Homo sapiens: one gene and its partner. The main gene of each other region encodes a partner of the protein of the gene in region 2 in a complex. Each region holds a gene or a part of one and is shown on either strand. Other genes may lie near its edges.

Region 1 (3,600 bases), on a different chromosome or scaffold from region 2:
GTTTTGTTTTTGTTTTTTTAATGCAGCGCTTTTCCTGTATTATCGGGCCAAATGGCAGTGGCAAATCCAATGTTATTGATTCTATGCTTTTTGTGTTTGGCTATCGAGCACAAAAAATAAGATCTAAAAAACTCTCAGTATTAATACATAATTCTGATGAACACAAGGACATTCAGAGTTGTACAGTAGAAGTTCATTTTCAAAAGATAATTGATAAGGTAAGGGATTTTTACTGTTATTGGCAAGTTCAAGTAAGGAAAATGGACTTAAATGCATTACATATTTTATTTTTGGCTTTAAGAAATTTGTATGTAATTACAGCGGAAAGCATTGGTTTCATTATCTCTGACCGTATTTTATTTTGGGGGAGTGGTGGTGCCTGTTAAAATACTTATTTTTTAGCTAAAGAAATGAAGTATAAATAGTTCATAGTAATCCTTTTTGGAATAAAAGCATTGAGCAGTTTTAGGGTCCTGAGTACTAAATAGGCATTATTTTACTATAAATATTCAGTTCATTTTTAAAGTTATATTTTGATTGCTTTAGAATAAATTAGCTAAACTTGAAAATGTAGCAGTTAGCCGGTTTTACCATCTTCATTATTTCAGTGCATTTTAACTCTAATGTTAGTGGCCCCTGAGTATCTGTGATATGAAAGAGCTTTGCTTCAGTTTGACTACTGCTGTAATTAAGTCCTTTAGAAATGGGGGAAGGACAAGCTAATGTTTGTTTTCTAGAAATGGAGACAACTAGAGGTAAAATGTCTAGATTATTTACCTGTTGAGACTTTTTCTCTTCTGTTTAATAATGTAGGAAATTGATTGTTCAAAAATGACTCGATGGAACCTAAAAATATAGAAAACTAATTACATAATGAAATTGGGAGGTGATTTGTCTTTTGAATTCGTTTTCCTTTTTTTAATACAAAGTGCTTTAATTACACAGAATCATCTATTTTAATTTGGTTTCTTTTGTGCTTTCTATTGTACAAGTTGGGTTGGAAAATAGATTGCCAGGAAATCAGATTTTATTCCATTGCATATTAATTACATTTGATTTATCTAAATTTTAGAAGCCTTTGCTTCAGTATGACAGAACTTTTAAGGTTAAGGGAAAGTGTTAAAGTAGATTTGCAATTGATTTTTTTAAAAATCTGTTTAAAAGAAAATCAAGGGAATTTAGTTGTTATTTCTTTGTGATTCTTTTTACTTTAAATTAACGGCACACTCTTTACCCTCCCACACAAAAAAACTAAAGTGTATCACCCGGTTACTACCTTCCTTCCTTTTTCTTTGAATCATCATTTTAAAAAGCTGCAGCTTTTTAATCTGTCAACATGTTAATAATTTGTGTGGGTTTTGGATATGGTGGGAATCTTGTCTACGTCTTCTCAATCATAAACGTTTTTAGGCTTGTTTGGAGGTGGGTTTTTTCGTTGGCTGGTTGGTTTGGCTTCTTGATTTTTGTGATCTTTGAGAAAGGGACCAAAACAGCATGGAAAAGTATCAATTCTTTGCTAAGTTGGGTTATTAATGAGAACTACTGGCAGTTTGTGTGCATGTTCAATTGAAGTTTTTAATCCATAGAATTAGTTTCAGTATGAAATGAGTGAATTTTGAAGTAGGCCTATGACTTAATACCAACAATTGTTTTCTGGTTTTGTTTTTCCTCAAAACAGGAAGGGGATGATTATGAAGTCATTCCTAACAGTAATTTCTATGTATCCAGAACGGCCTGCAGAGATAATACTTCTGTCTATCACATAAGTGGAAAGAAAAAGACATTTAAGGATGTTGGAAATCTTCTTCGAAGCCATGGAATTGACTTGGACCATAATAGATTTTTAATTTTACAGGTAAGTTTATTAAAGACTTCAAAGATTCTCTTATTCTTGTTACTTTTTTTTCTATAAAGCTAGGTTGGATGAATCCTACATTTTTGAGGCCTTAAAGTACTGTAGCAGCACATCATGGTTTACATGCTACAGTCAAGATGCGAATCATTATTTGCTGCTCTAGAAATTTAAGGAAATTCATTCAAAACTATGTTTTCATCATCAGATGTTCGTTTTATGTTTGGATGAACTGACATACTTGTTCCACTCTAGCAGCACGTAAATATTGGCGTAGTGAAATATATATTAAACACCAATATTACTGTGCTGCTTTAGTGTGACAGGGATACAGCAACTATTTTATCAATTGTTTGTATTTCCCTTTAAGGTAACATTTTAAATGAAATGTATTATATTTTAATCTATCCTTTTCCTTTGTTTTTGTTCTTATTATCTCTTCTGATATATAACCAAAAAATGAAAAAATCTGTACACTTGGTGTTTGATTTACCTAAGCACCTAGTTAATTTAATCTTTGTAACACTTTGGATGGTTAACTTAACCTTTACTCAAGTTGGTTTTTGTTTTGTTGAAAATGACTTACTTGGTGGAACCACTACTACTGAAAGAACGAAACTTTGATATTACATTGTTAAGTATCAGAGCTGTTACAGAGCAAGTCCTTTTAAAGAGATGTAAAAATTAAGTACCTGTGCCAAACTGATTTTTATTAGAAACCCTGTTTTCTTTAAGTAAAAGTATATTCTACCAGCATGGCTTGGTAAGAAAAATCCCCTATCTTTTTTTCCCTGTCCTCAAAATTCAGAATTTTTCGGAAAAAAAAAAAATTAGGGTAAAACCATGGCTTTGTCAAGTTCCTGTTTGATTCGAGGGTATCTTCTTTTCCTGTGTTCTATCCAGAATCACCGAAGCATAATAAAAGCAAAACTATTTTGTGATGCAGAAATGACTGAAATAAGTAGGGAATTTTGTTAGGGTGACTGGATGTTCCTAATAACAAACTTATAAAATGTTAGCCTCTGTTTCCATTTTAGTCTTTATTCTTCAATTGTTTCTAAAAATTATTACTTTTAGACATTCATAGTATACAAGGTAAATCAGTATCATTCTAGGATAACCTTTTTTAATATCTTTTGTTACCAGGCACAGTATATTTGCAATACTTCAACCTAAACTTATTTAAAAATTAATGTTGAGGAAATTAATTGCAGATATATTTCTAAACAAGATTGGAATTTATAGAATGTGGCATTAAAGGATTTTGTGTGTTTTTAAAATCAAATTGAACTGTTTTATTGACTTACATATTCTGGGACTTGGTTTGGTTAATAATGGATAAAAAGTTATGTCCCTATATAATACTAAATTTGATGATGATACCAATTTGCAGGAAATTGTACTTATGTTTATCTTTTGCTTAATCTTTTACCGTCATCCTGGGATAATCAAAGTTTTACATTTATCCAAAGATTCATCAAAATACACTGCATTTTAACCCTTCTAAGGATAATTTTTTTCTCTGTACAGCATCTCTGTACGTAATTCAGTAATAAAGGAAGCTAATGTAATATTGTCCCAACGAAGTAAATAATTTATAAATTGTCAAATTTATATTACATTTGTGCTTCTGAAGTATATGGGATGCTAAAGCCAATTTGTTCACATGATAATCTGAACCTTTTTATGTGATCTTTACAATTGTTTAAAAAACATTTCTTCCCAAATAATACAAAGGTGAATGTTCC
Region 2 (3,957 bases):
TACAGGGTTTGTGAGCAGTAAACGAAGTAAAGTGCTTAGCATGGTGTCTGGCACATAATAAAGGTTAATTAAGTGCAAGTTACTATTATGAACATATCAATATGAACCACAGCAATATTGATTGAAAAAAGCCAGATGCACATATAATTATTCATTTAACGGTTAAAACATGCAAAATAGTACAATATCCTCATTCAGGGATTTATTCATGTCATTAATATATTAAAATATGTCATTAAGATATAGAAAGCTGCATGGTAAAAGTTAACAGTAAATTCAGAAAATCCATTACTTCTTCGGAGGGCAGGTAATTCAAAAGGAGAAAGATGTACAGGTGGCTTTAGTAATGTTCTATTTCTTCAGCTGGCAGTAGGTTACTGAGGTGTAGGAGAGGGAAAAACGGCTTCCCTCCATCCTCCTAGGTTCTTTGGCTGGGTTACAAATTAACCTGACATAGACATTAACAAGAAAAAAAACCCGTACTTAATTACATACGCAGAGGAGTCCCACCATGGTCAGATGATTGAATATTATACAGCATCCTACGCTACTCAAGAAATGGGGGCTTGCGGCTTTCTGGGGGATGGTGGCCACAAAGTTGTGGAAAGGTGAGGGGAGGAAATATACGGTGAATAAAAGTTGTCTTGGTATGCAGATAAGATCTCCCAGGTAACAAAAATTATCGCAGAGCTGCCCTCTTTCTGATACAGATCCTTTACTGATGTATATTTCCTCTGTAGATGTCAATTTCTTTTACAACAGGACAGATTTTCAGAGCGACTCCTGTGTCTGCATTTTATCAGAATACCAGCTCAAAATATACTCTAGAAGTATATTGTAGGGTGGCATATTTTGGTCTCCTACAGTCCTATTTTTGGATGGTGCATCCTGAGATCCAACAGAAGTTCTGTCTGATATAATTTCATTTAAAATTTAAAAACCTAGTTCCTACTCTTCTTTATTTTAACCACTACCCGAAAGACCTTTCCATTCTCTTGAGTTCTCCCTTAATACACTGTCCTTATGCACACTTGTAAACAGGGCCTACACAGCTGCACATCTAGAAACGGCAGCAGCTAAGTTAGCCCGCACCCCCCTTCGCAACGATCCCCGGACTGCCTGCACGCCCTGTGGAACCTCGCAGTCGGCTTCACCAGGGCAGGGACTAAGGCCTTCAAAAGACAGCATCCGTCTCCACTAACCTCGGGTCGCCCCGCTCAGCGGACCCAGCAGCGTCGTCTCCCTTCTCAGAGGTGGCCGGGCCTCCGGAACGCGCTACGAACTTTCCTTTGTCGCCGTCTCTCGAAGCGGAGCCCTCGTGTGGGGATCCCCCGCCCTTCGGCCACAAGGGAGGTTGTTATCCTCGGCAGATCTCCCGTTCTCACTCTTGGAGGATCGCTTTTTCTTTCTAGCCTCACGCTCAGCCGCACGACCCAGCCAGGCCTAACGCCAGCAGCCCTTCCCCTCCGGTGGCAAGGCCACTCCGCTCAGCTCCCGCGCCGACGCTACTTCCGGCCGAGTCAAGGCCCCTCCCCCTTAGAAACGCCACTTCCCTCCGTGAAAACGGCTGGACAAGGTTGAACCTAGACGCATGCGCCCAAAGCGCGGGGTGCGAGGTGGGTGGACCCATCGCTTCCCGCTCTCTTCTCCCAAAGCGCTTACGGCAGTCTCGCGGGATTTCCCCCTCTCGCGGGAATTATTTGAACGTTCGAGCGGTAAATACTCCCTGGGGCTGTCATAGAAGACTACTCGGAGAGCGCTGCCTCTGGGTTGGCGGGCTGGCAGGCTGTAGCCGAGCGCGGGCAGGACTCGTCCCGGCAGGGTTCCAGAGCCATGGGAGCGGAAAGGAGGCTGCTGTCGATTAAGGAGGCCTTTCGGCTGGCGCAGCAGCCGCACCAGAACCAGGCGAAGCTGGTGGTGGCGCTGAGCCGCACCTACCGCACGGTAAGCGCTCCCGGCCCCGGCCGCCGCCTCTCGCCCGCCCCGGCCCACCCTCCCTCAGGGGCCCTCCGTGGCCCTCGGGCTCGGCGCACCGTGACTCCAGCCTTGTTCACCTTCGCGACTCACTTCATAGGGATCTGAGGTTCGGAGAAGTCAGGGACTTACCCGAGGTCGCCTGGGCCCAGGCCAGAAAGCCTCCGAAGCCTGGGCGTCGTTCACACGGGCCCCGCCTTGGCTTTTCTGAGCCGACACCCCCAGCTTCTGGGCGGCGTGGACCGTTATTCCTTAGTCCGATCGTGAACGTGGAGAGAAACATTTACGACCACCGAGGCGATCAGACATCAAATATTGAACCGCAGAGTGGATCCTGAATGCGGGGGTTCAGTGGTCGTTGCCCCTGGGGTCATCGCTCCCCGCCGAACATCAAATGATTCTACCCTTGTCCTACGGTTACGTTGAATCCAATCACCAAATACCAAATTATTTTTAGGGCCTGGCCATTCTTATTTATGTACATACTATTTGTTTGTTTTGAGTGGAACCTTGAGAAGAATAGAACAATTAATTTGGGGAAGATGAATTATCTTGAGGTCCAAGAAAAATTGTGAGTAAACATCACAGGGCTTTGAGGATATGAGATAGGATGTGCAAGTTATCTCATAAAGAAACTGCTGGTGATAGGAAGGCCTGAATATGAGAAATATAAAAGCCAGTATTGATTTTGGGTTGTTGAAGAAGCGTATTTGTAACGTACTGGTACTAAAGGCTTATTGAGAATCAAAGATATTGAAAAAAATATATCAAAGGAATCTTTTCACTGTCAAAAGTCAAGCTTGTGTACTCCCATTATAGCCTGGAGAGAAATTCATGCAAATTGATTGCCCTTTGGCTGGTTTGGATAATTAAGAGTTTACTAAATAAATATTTTAATTTGTCTGCATTATTATGGCTAGTGCTTTCATCAGTCTTAGGGTGATGTTGGGAATAAAGGATTTTTATCGGTGCAGTTTATGAAGGGTTTCTTTTGTCTTTCAGATGGATGATAAGACAGTTTTTCATGAGGAGTTCATTCATTACCTTAAATATGTTATGGTGGTCTATAAACGTGAACCAGCTGTGGAGAGGGTAATAGAATTTGCAGCAAAGTTTGTTACCTCATTTCACCAATCAGATATGGAAGATGATGAGGAAGAGGAAGATGGTGGCCTTTTAAATTATTTGTTTACTTTTCTCTTAAAGGTACTATGAAAATGATAGCTTTGGGGAGGGATTTTAGAAAATTTTGCCACTTTAAAAGAGTCGTGGGAGTTTGTATGTTTTTGACAATGAAATATCTAGTGATTGAAAAAACCTGAATGAGTCTACCTTTCATAGGAAATATTAGAATTATCATTATGATTAAAAAGTGGACTTTAACTCCAGCATTAAATTTTTAATGACCTCTTTAAACCAGTTCTCCTTTGTTTATTTTAAATGAGTTCTGTATTTTAGAAGCCTCTACAAAGAGGACTATGTAACTTAGCAAAGACTTCTTTCAGACTGTTCATTTTGAGACTGTATAAAATATATATATTTGCTATACATATGGACCAAGGTAGCATTATAGGTTCTCTTCAGGAAATGAATTGTTGTTGTAACTTCTTGCATTCCGAATGTATAGAGTTCAGATAATATTGATTATTTGGGAGTGGTATGTGACTATGAATAAATTTTGATTTGTTTCTGTTTTAGTCTCATGAAGCAAACAGCAATGCAGTGAGATTTAGAGTGTGCCTGCTCATAAACAAGCTTTTGGGAAGTATGCCAGAAAATGCTCAGATTGATGATGATGTGTTTGATAAAATTAATAAAGCCATGCTTATTAGATTGAAAGATAAGATTCCAAATGTGAGAATACAGGCAGTTCTGGCGCTTTCACGACTTCAGGATCCCAAGGATGATGAATGCCCAGTGGTTAATGGTGTGTGTAGTTTCCTAAATCTTTTTTCAGATTTGTTGATTTTGTTAAATTCTCAG

What was found. The genes of interacting proteins can lie anywhere in the genome.
Region 1: NCAPG (region 2) and SMC4 share a complex: the UniProt entries of both Homo sapiens proteins name them as parts of the condensin complex.

What each region holds. Positions count from the first base shown.
Region 1 is NC_000003.12:160,402,650-160,406,249, forward strand, and holds part of SMC4 (structural maintenance of chromosomes protein 4), read left to right. Parts: intron 1-26; coding exon 27-218; intron 219-1,678; coding exon 1,679-1,855; intron 1,856-1,938; exon of another isoform or gene 1,939-2,036; intron 2,037-2,095; exon of another isoform or gene 2,096-2,176; intron 2,177-3,600. UniProt on the Homo sapiens protein: Central component of the condensin complex, a complex required for conversion of interphase chromatin into mitotic-like condense chromosomes.
Region 2 is NC_000004.12:17,809,245-17,813,201, forward strand, and holds the start of NCAPG (condensin complex subunit 3), read left to right. Parts: upstream 1-1,734; 5' UTR 1,735-1,833; coding exon 1,834-1,944; intron 1,945-2,976; coding exon 2,977-3,180; intron 3,181-3,672; coding exon 3,673-3,901; intron 3,902-3,957. UniProt on the Homo sapiens protein: Regulatory subunit of the condensin complex, a complex required for conversion of interphase chromatin into mitotic-like condense chromosomes.